Linked DNA regions of Homo sapiens: region 2 is linked to region 1. The links come from fine-mapping of genetic effects on gene expression. Tissue or cell type: adrenal gland. Region 1 holds a variant in brackets; the other region holds the start of a gene. All regions are shown on one strand. Distances are from middle to middle.

Region 1 (8,108 bases):
GGGGCGGCAAGCCAGACGTAAACTGTGATCAAAATCACAGAGAGGGCGGTGACAGCCTCCACCCTGAAGGCCAGGAGCATACGACTATCATGGATGACAGAGACATCAGAGAAGGTACCAGGAGTGCCACAGAGTTCCCAAGAGGGAGCCCAGAGCTGCTGATGGCAACAGACACAGCCCCGCCTGTCCCCACATCCCTTTACCTTGCTTCTGCATCCTCGAGTATGCTCTAGAAGTACTCTCTGGGCAATTGGGCAATCTATATTAAAGGACATATCACAGCAAATTGCAGACAGAGTGAACTTTCAAAGCCTCAGGCCTCATTGTTTCATTCATAATTTTTAAAAATCTTAAAATCTTTCAAAAGACTAAAAGCGAAGCCCAAATTCCTCAATATGGCATACAAGGCACCCCAGCTCTGGCCCCTGGTCCCCTCCTCAGCCTCACCTCTCACCACTCCCCTCCTCCTGCCCCAGCCATTCCCCAGCCTCGCTTTGTACTCGCCTTTTCCAGCCTATCTGCCTGTATTTCAGTTCTACCAATGGCCTCGTATCTCTTCCAACCAAAACGTTTGTTTTTCTCCTGAATGAAACCACCATGCCCAAAAATGGCCTCCATTTGGTTGACTTCTACACATCCTTAAGAGGGCGGCTCTGATGTCACTTTATCTAGAAAGCTTTCCCATGCTTTCCAGGCCAGGGCAGGCTACAGAATTCCATATCCTCTGTCTCCCCTATCACAGCACCTATGCCCTATTGGACTGAAGTTCTGTGATGGCACCAAATAGGATGGGACATTTCATTCCGTGTCTAACACACAGTAGGACCTTAATAAATATTTGTTGAATTTGCCTTTTGGAGACCATGAGCTCTGTGAGGCTACAGAGGCTGCAGGCCCAGGACCTGGTGTGATACCTTTCATATGCTAACCATTCATGACTGTTCTTAAATGAAAGCTTTTCCCCTTGTCCCTCCTGCTACCCCGAACCTTTGGCAAACTTTCTTTTGATGTGTGTGTATGTGCGCATGTGTGTTTCCCCTGAGTGTGAAAATTCTAGGGCAAATTGAATTTTGTCTTGATGGTTGCCAAGGCCCAGACATCACATGTTTCAATGTTACTGGCTCCCACTGAACCAAAGGCAGGGTTTAGTTGAAACTAACTCTACTACCATTTGGCTTCCCAAGGAAAAAACTGCTCCAGGCCAGGCACAGTGGCTCACACCTGTAATCCCAGCACTTTGGGAGGCCAAGGCAGGAGGATCACCTGAGGTCAGGAGTCCAAGACCAGCCTGGCCAGCATGGTGAAACCCCCATCTCTACTGAAAATACAAAAATTAGCCAGGCATAGTGGCTTGTGCTTGTAGTCCCAGCTACTCAGGAGGCTGAGGCAGGAGAATTGCTTGAACCCAGGAGGTGGAGGTTGCAGTGAGCCGAGATCATGCCAGTGCACTCCAGCCTGGGCAACAGAGTGAGACTCCATCTCAAAAAAAAAAAAAAAAAGAAGAAAAAAAGAAAAAAACGCTCCACAGAACAATAGGGCCATTTTATCATGTGCTAATGTGGATCTTATTTTACTCCTAAGACGTCCTCCCAGGTCAACCAAATTAAACTTCCAAAGATACTCTCCCTCTTTTATTCCATAGAGTCCTTAAGCATCATGGCAACTCCCAACAACCTAGGACAAAATTCATTGTCAGCTGATAGTTGTGACTAATGCTAGTAAGGAGATATACGAGGCATTTCCTAGACACATCTGAAAGACATGGTGCTGAAAAGTCAATAGGTAAATAAAGCAAAAGAGCCCAGGAGAAACTTAGATGTATTTCCATCATTGTGGCTTTGTTCACATTTATTGCCAGTAATCTGTCTGTAACGTCTTTCTGTGAGCTGGACCCAGTGAATTGATCCCGAGTACAAGGGATGGTCAATACCTCACAGAAGCAACTCATCACCATGGCCTTTGTCATGGCTGAGAAATGAAAAAATAGACATCAGGAAGCCAAATTGCTTGCAACAATGAAAAAAAAGCAAAGCAAAAGGAAAAACTCACACCTTCTCAAAACCGTCCATCCGAGCTAGGGCTGATTGTGTTTTGTGTCACAAGACCAAGGATTCCAAATCAGACTGTCAGTGATTGTGCCTCTGATCCAGAGGGCCTTTCACAGCCAGGTACAAATCACCATGAATGACATGCTCCTGGTAACTGCCAACTCTGGAGAAGCAGCAGGATGAGGGAGAAAGAGCATGGGATGCAGAATAACAGGACCTGGGGTTTTGTCCCATGGTGCCACTTATTGTGTGACCTTGGACAAGCCATTTCAATCCCTCCAGGCCTCAGCATTTCTTATATCAAGCATATAGAACACTTAGATAAAGCATATAGAACACTTTTAGAAAAGCAAAGCATAAGTAGTCGGTACTATGTGATGGCTAATTTTATGTGTCGACTTGGCTGGGCCATAATGCCCAGATATTTGGTCAAATATTATTCTAATATTTGTTTTCTTACAATTCTGGATTGTAGGAAAGGTAAGGAATTAAAAAGAGGAAAACAATGACATCTGGAGAAAGAAAGATATTATTTTCCACTGAGACAGCAATCCTAAGCAGTGGTTCCAGATAGAATTTACTCTGCACCAACAGTGAGGACATTGGGTAAATAAACATAAAGGTGAATATTAGATGAAAAAAGATCTAGGCAAATTAACATCATCTTGCACACTGAATTGATTACAGATGTTAGCATTGACTGAGAAACTTAAAGTATGTCCAATCTATTTCCTTCCCATCACGGATGAGGACTCGAAGGCTCAAGGCTGGAAAGTGGCTGGTCTAAGGTCACACTGTGTGTTCTTAGGAGAGTTAGAAAGAACAATTTCTTCAGAATATGCAACACTGCCTCCTAGAGTTTAGTCCTCCAACTAGCACTGCAATTCAAGGAGGTTATAACACTGTTCTATAATACCACTCCAGTATCTTAGTCAATTGGGCTGCCATAACAAAGTACCATAGACTGGGTGGCTTATACACAACAGAAATTTATTTCTCACAGTTCTGGAGGCTGGAAAGCCCAAAATCAAGGTACTGAAAAATTTGACATCTGGTGAGGGCCTGCTTCCCGGCTTGTAGACATCTAGCTGTATCCTCACATGGTCTCCTGTCTTGTAGTCTTTTAATGAGGACATCATGAAGGCCCCACCCTCCTGACCTAATCTAACCCTAATTATCTCCAAAGACCTCACCTCCAAATACCATCACACTGGGGATCAGGGCTTTAACATAGGGCTTTCAAGGGAGCACAAATACTCAATCCATACCAACTATCAATTACAAAATAAGTAAAATTCTTTCTAAAATACAAATCTTAGCCAGGTGCGGTGGCTCATGCCTATAATCCCAGCACTTTGGGAGGCCAAGGCAGGTGATCACGAGGTCAGGAGTTCGAGACCAGCCTGGCCAAAATGGTGAAACCCCGTCTCTACTAAAAATATAAAAATTAGCCAGGCGTGGTGGTGCGCATCTGTAATCCCAGCTACTCAGCAGGCTGAGGCAGGAGAATTGTTTGAACCCGGGAGGCAGAGGTTGCAATGCGCTGAGATTGTGCCATTGTACTCCAGCCTGGGTAACAAGAGCAAGACTCTGTCTCAGAAAAACAAGAAAGAAAGAGAGAGAGAGAGAGAGAGAGACCAGGAGTGGTGGCTCACGCCTGTAATCCCAGCACTTTGGGAGGCCGAGGCGGGTAGATCACAAGGTCAGGAGATCGAGACCATCCTGGCCAACACAGTGAAACCCCATCTCTACTAAAAATACAAAAAATTAGCCGGGTGTGATGGCGGGCGCCTGTAGTCCCAGCTACTC[A/G]GGAGGCTGAGGCAGGAGAATGGCGTGAACCCTGGAGGCAGAGCTTGCAGTGAACCGAGATGGCGCCACTGCACTCCAGCCTGGGCGACAGAGCGAGACTCCATCAAAAAAAGAAAAAGGAAAGAAAGAAAGAAAGAAAGAAAGAAAGAAAGAAAGAAAGAAAGAAAGAAAGAAAGAAAGAAGGAAGGAAGGAAGGAAGGAAGGAAGGAAGGAAGGAAGGAAGGAAGGAAGGAAGGAAGGAAGGGGAAGAAAGAAAGTAGGAAGGAAGGAAGGGGGAGGGGGAGGGAAGGAAGGAGGAAGGAAGGAAGGAAATCTTTTTCATTCTAAGTACCTTGGTTTGTGGCTCCATTAAATCTAAGAGATGTATAATTTTGTAGCCCTGGGACACGTACTTAGCTTCAGTGCTTTGGTTTTTTTGTTTTAAACTTCATTTTCAGTGACATCTCAGGCTTGATGCCATTTCTTATTAGGATGCCTTAGCCCAGAAATCCTCCCACGCCATGAACCTGTGATTCTGATACCTAGATTTTATTTCATCCAGCAGATATGTAGTGAGCACATGTGATGTGGTGAGCATTGGTCTGAATGCTGGAGATACACAGGGAACCAAAGAAACAAAGTCTCCTCACTGATGGAGCTTACACTGGAGGGTGGGGGACAATAAACACATCACTCAATAAAGTCTATAGCTTGGTAGATGGTGATAGTGCTCTGGAGAAAAACTAAGCAGGCTGGGTGAAAGTGAGCAAAGAATTTTTGTAAAAGTAGCTGAGGAGGACCTCATGAAGAATGGGATGTTTGAGCAATCATATAAAAGATGGGATAGGAAGTCACGCGGTATATGAGAAAGAGTGTTCTAGATAAAGGAGATAGTGCTCTAGGTCAGAGCAGAGGCTCTGAGTCAGGGGAACCATTTTCCAGTCATCAGATCCATTTGTGAAAGGAAAATAAATCTTAGAGCCCCAAAATCACTAAGCCAAAGGGAGAAGTCAAGCTGGAAACTGCTTAGGGCAAACCTGCCTCCCATTCTATTCAAAGTCATCCCTCTGCTCACTGAGGTAAATGCATATCTGATTGGAGAGGCTAATCAAAAACTCAAAAGAGGCCAAGCTCCATGGCTCACACCTGTAATCCTAACACTTTGGGAGACCTAGGTGGGATAGGAAGTGGATCCCCCCACTGACAGTGCTGGGTACATCAGATGACTTGAGGTCAGGAGTTCGAGACCAGCCTGGCCAAGGTGGTGAAACCCTGTCTCTACTGAAAATACAAAAATTAGCTGGGCATGGTAGCAGGCGCCTCTAGTCCCAGCTACTTGGGAGGCTGAGGCAGGAGAATCACTTGAACCCGGGAGGCAAAAGTTGCAGTGCTGAGATGGCGCCACTGCACCCCAGTGTGGGTGACAGAGTGAGACCCTGACTCAATTAAAGCAAACAAACAAAAAAACTCAAAAGAATGCAACTTTTTGTCCCTTATCTATCTATGGCCTGGAAGCCCCCTCCCCACTTTGAGTTGCCCCGCCTCTGCTTCCAATGGTCCGGCCTTTCCGGACTGAATCAATGTTCATCTTACATATATTGATTGATGTCTCATGTCTCCCTAAAGTGTGTGTGCAAAACCAAGCTGTGCTCGGACCACCTTGGACACACGTCGTCAGGACCTCCTGAGGCTGTGTCACTGGCATGTGTCTTTAACTTTGGCAAAATAAACTTCCTAAACTGACTGAGACCTGTCTCAGATAATCCGGGTTCACACATTCATTTGATATTAAAAGCCTACGTTTCTCCTGTTCATGAGAAAGAAAACTTGGTTTCTTCACCGATTCCTGATCCTTCACCTTGTGAAGATGGGATAGGAAGTGGATCCCCCTGCTGACAGTGCTGGGTACATCAGATCAAACACCATCCAGTTGTGCCAGGACAAAGGTCATCCAGCTCAAAGATGATTCTCTCAACCCTTATTCCATCATGCTAGTATTGCCAAGCTGTTTGTAACAAAGGTGAGAAAACAGCCCAGGAAGGAAGAAGCCCACGCACTGCAGTAGGGCTATCGGGGAAGTTTCAGAGTTCACCTCGGGTGGAGGTTTTGGCATCTAAACTGCAACAACTGGGCATGACAATCCTATCAGGCATCATACTCAACTCCGCCTGGATCCCCGAACCGGGCCCCACATACCTGTACACAAATCATCTGCTCCTGCCTCCCTTTCACATTTGGCAACCAGTATGTCCCACATGCTGTTCCAGGAGCAAGACATGCAATGATGCACATGACTGACAACACCCTTCTTTTGTGGCATTTATCCCCATTTGGGGGAAACAGCCAAAACCTGGTAAATGAGTGAACAAGATAATTTCACAGTGTAATGAGGGGTATAAGGAAAATCAACAGAGCAATGTGGTAGTCACCATTAGGGACAGAGGGGTGTCTTACTCAGATGTGATGGGGGCTTTGGAAGGCCAGGGAAGGCCTTCTGAGGAGCTGCCATTTGACCTGATAGTTGAGTATAAAAAGGGTTAGCCATCGGAAGGGTATACCAGATGGAAGGAGCAGTGAGGCCCTGCTGTGGGCAAGCGCTCCGTGCGTCTGACAAATAGATGTGAGTGCGTTTGAATCAAAGCCTTGGGGAGGTGGATGGAAGTGAGATCACACAGGCCTTGGCGTTCAGAGTAGGGAGTTCGGGTTTTATTCCAGGGGCAGTACGAAGCCATTGGAGTTCTTATGCCAGTTTCTATGACCTGATTTACCTTGTTTGTGCAGCACTCTGATTGCTGTGTGAAGAATGGTTTGGAAAGGTGTTAGTGGCTTGGACTGGACTATGGCTCTGGAGGTAGGGAGTGGGGGAGCAGGGGTGAGGAGATTATTCAGGATATATATCAGAGCCATTTGATGAACTGGATATGGTTGAAGAAAGGAGGAATTGAAGGTGACTCCTAAATTTTCCCTCAAGCAAGTAGGTAGTTTGTGGTGCTATTCTGTGAGATGGAAAGGAGAGGAAGACTTGTAGGTTGAGGGCGTGCTAATAAAAAAAGAATAGAGTATTATTTGGGGTATATTAAACCCCATCCAAGTAGAGATGTCGAATAGACAACTGTATATAAAACAAGTCTTAGAGGAAAGGTGAGGGCTAGATAGAGATAGTGGAGCTATCAACCAAAAGAAAGAAGTCATGTTACTGGATGAACTTGGCTAGGAACTTAACCTTGGCTAGGTCCAGAATTCCACCCCCTTTCCATGCAGAGACAGCAGGCTTTCTGACCTGCCCCATCTCTCCTCCCCCTGTCCCCAGGAGATTCCTGGTGCTGTACTGAAGGAAGAATGCCTGCCCTCCTTGCTCACAGGGAGGTTTGATTTGAGTGGCAGGTGCATTCCTGGGAGTGACAAGGTCAGCTTCTACTATCGCTACAGAAAGTTCACCACTTCCAACTCTAAGGCTGATTTCTCTCTCAGCTCATGGCTAGAAACTCACAGATCAGCCAACTAGGAAGTGGCATTTCTGCTTCCTCTTCACATGCCACAGGCACACAATATTGGAACTGTGATGTCTAGTGGAATGGTGAACTCCCAAGTCCAGGAGTGTCCTGATGGTCTAACACTAATGATGAAGGTGATGGTGATGCTGCTAATCACTAACACAGACCATTTACCATGTGCTAGACTTGCAATAAAAATTTTACCCAGATTGTCCCATTTAATGCTCAGACTAATCCTATAAAGTTATACTGTTCTTCTACTGTTTCCCCCATTTTACAAAGAAGGAAATTTATAGAAAAGATTGGTCTCTTCCTGGTTATCTAATCTCCTTCTAACTCCTTGAGATGGACATAAGCTGTCCAAGAGGAAAAGGGAAAAATTTTAAATATATGTTTTGCATTGTAAAGTAAATGTGTCACGTGTTTTGGAAAAAATGGAAAGAAAAAGAAATCACCGGTTATCATTTGAACATGCTTCCTTCCAATCTTTTTCTTTCTCCTTTCATCTTTTTTTCATAACTGTAATCAAGGTATAACCTAAATTAATATATATATATAAGGTATAATATAAATTCTCTATTGAATTTTTTTTTTTTTTGAGACAGATTATCACTCTGTCACCCAGGCTGGAGTGCAGTGGCATGATCACAGCTTACTGCAAACCCTGCCTCCTGGGCTTAAGTGATCCTCCCACCCCAGCCTCTGGAGTAGCTGAGACCTCAGGTGTGCACCACCATGCCTAGCTAATTTTTTTATTTTTTGGTAGAGATGGGGTTTT
Region 2 (8,091 bases), 67 kb before region 1:
CTGGTCTTTGGTTAATATTTGAATACATGTGTTATCTACACACAATTTATGTTCAACTAATCACTCAGAAGAAATTTGACAAGAGACTTCTCATGTCAGTGGAGACATGTCAAATCAGTTTAAAATGAATGTGGGGCTTTCTAAATAGCTGCTTCTCAAGTAGAAGGTGGTATTGGCTACGTAAACTTGTTGTTGTTACTATTTCCTGTTTCCTTAAGGAACAAAGAGATTTATTTTGACATCTATAGGTGAATATCAGGATTCCAAGTGGAAATGATTCCTTGTTCTTTTCTATGAATTGCCCTGTCATTGGAGGTTTACTGGAATCAAAGACAAATGTGCTACTCTGGACTGTTGAAAATCAGAGTGGTCAAAATCACATAACTTGATGTTTACTGTCAAGGGAAAATATGGCTGGTATAGTTATTTCATAGAGCCCTGAAATTGCCTAAGGGTCTATCATATCGTTTGCTATTAATTATAGGGTTAAAATATTTTCCACAAAAGTCTAGCAAGATTAACTTTATGCCAAATGATACCACCCCTCTAGTGTGGCAGGACAGAGTGCCACTGTCTTCTTTATATGTTGTTTTCCTTTTTATTTTTTAATAATCATATTTTACTTTTAGAATCTGGAAAAAAATTTCTAAAGAAACTTTAAAGTTCGATTTAAAAAGTGATATGAGCCTTCAACTTTGCAATCCGGTGTTTGTTGGATATTTTAAAATAAGCTTTAGTGGCTTGTCTCCTCTAAGCAGGGCTATTTCGACAAGGCCTCTTTCAGTACCTGTTAGAAATCACCACCAGATTCAGAGCTCAACAATGGGAGTTTGTTCATTCAATCTGATCATTATTGACTAATTTGCATTTAGAATGCTGTCTCCAACCATTAATTAGTCATTCCTCAAAACAACCCAATGGGAGAGAGGAACATAATTATCCCTGTTTAGAAATGAAACCAACCAACAGTGCGTTCAGTGCCCCACAGAGGCAGATCCCCTAGCTATGCAGTCATGGCTGCTGGGAATATGCCAGCTGTCAGGGCCACCACACAACCAATAGGAGATGCAAGAGTGAGAATTTTACAAAATACCTCCGATGTTCCTATTTCATAAGCATTTGGGTTTAGATTTGCTGAGATTCGTCTTGCAAACCTTTATAAACATAACATCAGATCTATCAGACCACTTTTCATGGCAACACAACATAAGATGTGCAACATTGTATATATGCTTTTTAAATGTTCACAAATTCCCTCAAATAACCAACAGAATTATAATAGTGAAGGTAAGGAATAATCAAACAGCAAATACATACTAAATATTCATTATTCACAGGGCTCCATACTGGAATTATGAACAGGGATGGGGGCAAGAAATTAAAAAGATACCTACAGCCCTGGCTTTGCTCTAATCTAAGGTACCTAGAATTTGATAAAGAATCCAGCGAAATGCATATAAAACTTACTGTTTTAGAAAAATTTAATTATATGTAATCTTAATTTTAGAATAAGCATTTTTTTCTATATCTTTCTCCACAAAAATACATTTTCTTTAAGTTAAGGTGCAAGGGTGCACAAGTTACTTTAGAAGGTTGGAAAAGTCCCAGGAATTGGCCCTGAAATTATTTATTTTATTACTTAAAGAACGCTGGTGAATTCTCTCTTTTAAGAAAGAAAATATGGGGCTGGGCGCGATGGCTCACGCCTATAATTCCAGCACTTTGGGAGGCTGAGGAGGGCGAATCACCAGGTCAGGAGTTCAAGACCAGCCTGACCAATATGGTGAAACTCCCTCTCTACCAAAAATACAAAAATTAGCCAGGTGTGGTGGGACACGCCTGTAGTCCCAGCTACTCGGGAGGCTAAGGCAGGAGAATTGCATGAACCCAGGAGGCAGAGGTTGCAGTGAGCCAAGATTGTGCCATTGCACTCCAGCCTAAGCGACAGAGTGAGACTGTGTCTCAAAAAAAGAAAGAAAGAAAGAAGAGAGAGAGAGAGAGGGAGGGAGGGAGGGAGGGAAGGAAGGAAGGAAGGAAGGAACGAAGGAAGGAACGAAGGAAGGAAGGAAGGAAGGAAGGAAGGAAGGAAGGAAGGAAGGAAGGAAGGAAGGAAGGAAAAGAAAAGAAAGAAACTATGCGCCGGGTGTGGTGGGCTCACACCTGTAATCCCAGCACTTTGAGAGGCCGAGGCAGGCATATCACCTGAGGTCGGGGGTTCAAGACCAGACTGACCAACATGGAGAAACCCTGTCTCTACTAAAAATACAAAATTAGCTGGGCATGGTGGCGCATGCCTGTAATCCCAGCTACTCAGGAGGCTGAGGCAGGAGAATCGCTTGAACCCGGGAGGCGGAGGTTGCAGTGCACCGTGATCGGCACCATTGCACTCCAGCCTGGGCAAGAAGAGCAAAGCTCCATCTCAAAAAAAAAAAGAAAAAATTTCCTAGCTGACCATGGAAGGATAACAAATGTGATGAATCTGGCCGGGTGCGTTGCCTCACGCCTGTAATCCCAGCATTTTGGAAGGCCGAGGCAGGCAGATCACTTGAGGTAAGGAGCTCGAGATCAGCCTGGCCAACATGGTGAAGCCTCATCTCTACCAAAAATATAAAAAATTAGCCGGTGTGATGGTGTGCACCTGTAATCCCAGCTACTTGGGAGGCTGAGGGAGGAAAATCGCTTGAACCCGGGAGGTGAGGTTGCAGTGAGCCAAGATCGTGCCACTGCACTCCAGCCTGGGCGACAGAGCGAGACTCCATCTTAAAAGAAAAAAAATGTGATGAATCCATGTGTTATTATTTCCCACTACACTAAGCCATCAATATATCATGATTCTCTATGTGTTCTTCTAACACACAAACACACACCACACACACACTAACACATAATCGTTGCTTTTAATTGAAGAACATTTTCAACACCTCTCAAGTGGCAAAAATCCTGTTTATATTCTTGTCTGCCCCAGTTTATGGCTTCATAAGAATTTTTTCATCTGTTTTTTGAGGCAGAGTCTCGCTCTGTCGCCCAGGCTGGAGTGCAGTGGTGTGATCTCAGCTCACTGCAACCTCCGCCTCCTGGGTTCCAGTGATTCTCCAGCCTTAACCTCCCAAGTAGGTGGGATTGCAGGAGCCCACCGCCAGACCCAGCTAATTTTTGTATTTTTAGTAGAGACAGCGTTTCACCATGTTGGCCAGGCTGGTCTCGAACTCCTGACCTCAGGTGATCTGCCTGCCTCAGCCTCCCAAAGTGCTAGGATTACAGGTGTGGGCCACCGCGTTCCAGCCCAGTTTTAAGAATTTAATCTTCATTTCAAGCACAAAAAGACTTTTTTTTTTTTTTTTTGGCTGGTGGGGCCTCTTTTTTGAACTCTTTAGGGCCAAATCAACCTTTCTTCCTTGATCCCAGGGTGGAGTCAAATGAATCTAACAGACAAACGGCCCAACATCCTTCATGTCACTGCCAACTTCTCATTCAAAGGGGTACTTGGGGTGGCAGGTGGAGTTATAATTATAGCTTAGAAAAAAGCAGCATCAGCAGCTGTTGCTTCTGTTTGTTCCCAGCTATAACTGTCATCAGTGGCTAAACTGGCATAAACAGGCCTCTACAAGTGGAAAAACATTTAACCCCTGTTCTTGTCACACTCTGGGTCCTCTCAGTGGCCAGAGAACAGAAAGAAAATCTGACTGTGCACGAGCGAAGGGTGACACCGGGCGTGCAGCACCGACCTGAAGGCACCTCTTCGGGGGAGCCCGAAATTTGAAGATTCTCTTTCCTGTCGGAGACTACAAACCAAATAAATAGGTTAGTGCCCAGAGTAAACCTATGCATTTTAATTCTGACCTCTACTTGCTGTGATTTTCATTTTCCTGGCAGAGCTTGAAAAGAAGAGTGAACTACTAAATGAAAGAAAGGAAAGTTAATTAAGGACTGTTATTTAAAACTACCGGGAGTCCATGAGAACAAATTATGAAATGGGTTTAATTTATTATGCTCCTCTCCCAATTTTGGCTGTATTCGCACTAGGCAAATAGACAAGGTAAAGATGGAAAAATAAAACCGGTTTTGTGGCATGAGTCCCATCCTTTTGTAATGCCACTTACTTGTGCCAAAAGGCCCTACCTTCTTTATTAAAATCAGTAATGTTGAAAGCTAAGTTTGTGATTTTAGAAAATGCTGTAAACGTAGCTCCAGAGTTTCATTTCCTTAGGGAAAATAGGCAAATCAGAGTTGAATTGTTTTTCCAGCAATGAGTAAAGATAGAAAATTTTCTTGTTTATGATAAAATGTGTGGTGTAGGCTACTTTACAAAAGAAATCTGCTACAGAATTTATTTTTTGTGTCTAGTACAATTCTATCTAAAAGCTTCATGATTTCAGTCTAAGTAGCTCTATAAGACTCTCCTCATAGATCCTTTTGAGAAAAGTAAGATTTTAAATAAATCTCATTTTATTTGCATATGTTCTATCTTAGCCAGAAATTGAGCAAGATTTTCAAAGATTAGCTTTGCGCTGTCTGTTTCAAAACCTGAATATTTAATGTCTTGGTGAAAAGTGGTGGAATTCCAAAGAACTCACCAAAAACAAGGCTTTTGGGCCCAGTGCTCATCCTAACCACATTCATGAAATGGACTCAAGTAGAAAGAGTTGTAAATAATGACCTCATTTTGTTCAACTCCAAAGAGAATGTGAACCATCCCTAAGCATTTATGTACAACTTGTCATGGGGAAACTGCACCATTCTTATTTATCACTATGACCCAACTTTTTGGCTGACTTTTGAAATGCAATGAGTGCTAACGATGCATTTGGACCTCCACTAGAGAGACATCTACATGCAATCAAACCCACCAAAAGTGCCCCATCAATTAAATTCTCACGAGGGCCTTGTTTGTCTCATTTGTTCATTCAAATATATATTGGCCAATGGCTATATAATCTAAAAATAATATTTAACAGTTAAGGCAAGTTTAAGATGTCTAATATTACTCTTCCCAGAGACTGCTTTCCTCCTGCTTTCTGCTAAACTGAGATAATGGTTATCTGAAAGTTCCGAATTATAGAAACTAAGAAAGACAAAACAGAGATATGGCTGACTAGTTGCTGGCTTGAATTTCCTTGATATACAGACATACAGATTTATGCCCTATTTTAAACATTGCTTTTTACTTGTGTTTTGTCTTCTTGCTCTTCTAGAAAAAACTATCCAAGATGACTGTCACTTACTCCAGTAAAGTAGCAAATGCAACTTTTTTTGGATTTCATAGGTTACTCCTCAAGTGGAGAGGCAGCATCTACAAACTACTGTACAGGGAATTTATTGTTTTTGCTGTTCTTTATACAGCAATAAGTTTGGTATACAGGTACTTTTCTTTACATGTCTCCTTAAATGGCCATCAGATATTGTGTAAGATACAGTCTCAAAAATCTGAACCTTTTGATTGCCACTGACTTCGCATTATGGAACTCCTTTTTTGCGTGAGCCTCTCATTTGTCTTCTTCCCCTCAGGACAGATTTTAATCCACCACTAACCATTGTTAGGTTGTAAAATAGACCCTCACTGTTAAGATTCAGGTGGCCTTCATTCCAGCCCCAGTTGTGCCTCGAGACTGTTGCAATAGGCACAAAATGGAAGGATTATCCTTAGATCTTTACTGTGTAAAGACTTTTGAATGGGCAAAGTCCACAGACAATAATTATTTGTGCTTCTGTCAACTTGTCATTCATAGTTGATGATTTGACAGCTTGTAGCAACTACCTATATAATCAACATGTTCATGATTGGTGTATGTCAGGGAAAAGCTTTCCTTCTTTTGGCCTGGAATGAAAATATCTTATCCAGGATGATGCCTGCCACACTTAACAGTACCTCAACTAAAGCAAAGGCCTGTAGAATAATTTATTTTCTTTCCGTTTTCTGAGTTGAGGGTATATTATGTTCACAAAAGGAGGTGCTTATTCTTTATAACATTACAACATATGCCTGTCAGATTGACAGGAAATTTGAGCAATATCAAGTCCAAGAAATATTTTTATGATGAAAAGTTATAGTCTTAATAAAATTTCATCAGTATGATAAAAGGGAAGACTTATGAGATTTTAAAGCTTTTTTTATTAAAATTGAATGCATAAATTTCTTCTCTGGAGGAAGCTAAAATTTAAAACAGGAAAGCTAAAGGTTTTTGAGGCTGTATTTCCATTTTTTCTATGTTCATAGTTTGTTATTTTTCTTCTGCATACAGATAAACAAATTTGTGTTTCATTGCTCTCACATTCTTCCTTGCAGCAACAGGATCTCCTTTGGAAAAGAGGGATATTAATGTAGTTGACTGATAATTATTAAAAGTAAAATAGGTACAGCTATTTTTCCACATGTCAAAACAACCCTTCCAAGCAAGTGTATGCATTGGTATATATCTTGACAAAATATTTTTAGAGGGAAAGTCCTATTAACAACCTCTAATAATTTTTCAGACATGTCATATAATATGATATTATTTTGGCAATTTAGGTAGGTATCACCTAAGCCTTCAGAATATGAAATGGTAAAAGATACAATGGTGTTTCGTGATAATTATCTCATTAGTTCATTTTTACTAATGTGAATTTATTGCTGCTACTTCTGCTAAGAATAGAACAGAATAGCCCTTAGTACAGTTGCAATGTAGCTAGAAATGTTCCTTGGGGCCTCAACTTTTGTTCCAATATCATACTTATACCCCACAACATTTTATGCATATATTTCTTCTAAAGCAGAGGGCTTACATTTATAACAAAAATTATCAGTTCAAGTCATCCTTAAATTTTTAAAGTTCAATTGTAATACCTTATTAAAATAGATCTTTCTATCTTAATCAAAGGTATACCAAGAACTATAGGATGAGTTTGTCAAGAAAATCAAACACATCTATAGAAAAATATAGATGTAGTTTCATTCTCTAAGTCTTTATTAGCTCTATTATAGGTACATAATTATTCCTAACAAAAATTATAAGGAGGAACCAGATTCATTAATTTGATTACATTTATTTCTATTTTTGGAGGAATTTGACAAAATAATTTCTGAAATACTTTCTAGCTATTAAAATTTCTACATCTATTAGCCAAATATTTTTTCTTTGGCCAACTATTAATATGAACCATTTTATTATTAACTAAGTATGAGGCAATTTGTTAAGTGGTTATATATATGTATACATATATTATTTAATCTTTACAATGCCTCTTATATATAGATATTTTTATCCCCACTTACAGATGAGAAAACTGAGACTCAGAGAGTTCAAAAATATGCTCAAAGTCCAAATTCATAAGTGTCAGACTTGGAATTAAAATCTGGCTTTGTCTGACCTTAAAAAAGGTCCATGCTTTCCACATTTAAATCCTCTTTGACCATGTCTATTTGAACATCAGAAACCATTCTGGCTGTAATTGTCATCAGCATAACCCTGATAGACCTCTGCAACAATCTGGTACCTCTCCTGTCAGCTTTCCCTGACTTCAGTAATTCTAACACCTCTTCCAAAGCTGGGGCAGGAACTCCAAGCTCACCCTGTACCCCACACACCTTCTTTGTCAGGACCAGCTCCCAACAGCTCTCTATCTGCAATCTAATTGGTTGCTTACTGTTATCTCATTATCCCTTTGCTTCCTTTATCAAAGTTCTACTGACCCAAATGAGCCTTTGATGCTTGTTATAATGGATCTTTCCTTGAGTTCCTTCCTCCTTTGGAACAGCTACACTCGTCGATTTATTCAAATTCATCTGTTTGGCTTTCCTTCCTGTATTTTGGTCATTATTATTAGTTTGCCTTAAAACATTTCTCCAGACTCTGAATCTCTTCCCTATAATGTAAATATCAATAATAGTCTCATTAAATGCACTTATGTTTAACAATACCAGAAAATGGGGTTTGGGCAGGTTGGGTTAGATCTATAATATAAATTTTGAGAGAGTGACTAAATTTAATAATGAAAGTTTTCATTTCTCATTGTTAAATTTGTTTTAGACTCCAAACAATTCTGGGCTTTAAAATGAACAGTTATAATATCCCTTGAAGGGATATTATACACATGATAATCAAGAATGTGCTA

Evidence for each region. PIP is the estimated chance that this variant, and not a neighbour inherited with it, causes the effect.
Region 2: it holds the start of BEST3, and the variant in region 1 is fine-mapped to the expression of BEST3 in adrenal gland (GTEx, PIP 0.99).

What each region holds. Positions count from the first base shown.
Region 1 is chr12:69,628,035-69,636,142 of GRCh38, reverse strand. All of the region lies in intron 2 of LOC105369823 (a long non-coding RNA gene), which reads right to left. Among named protein-coding and RNA genes, the nearest start is that of LRRC10, 21 kb to the right of the region's middle. The variant A/G (reference allele first, on the strand shown) is at 3,858.
Region 2 is chr12:69,694,915-69,703,005 of GRCh38, reverse strand. It overlaps BEST3 (bestrophin 3), which reads left to right and starts at 3,703. Exons shown (of 10, transcript NM_032735.3): 1 at 3,703-3,801; 2 at 5,193-5,359. The coding sequence starts at 5,208.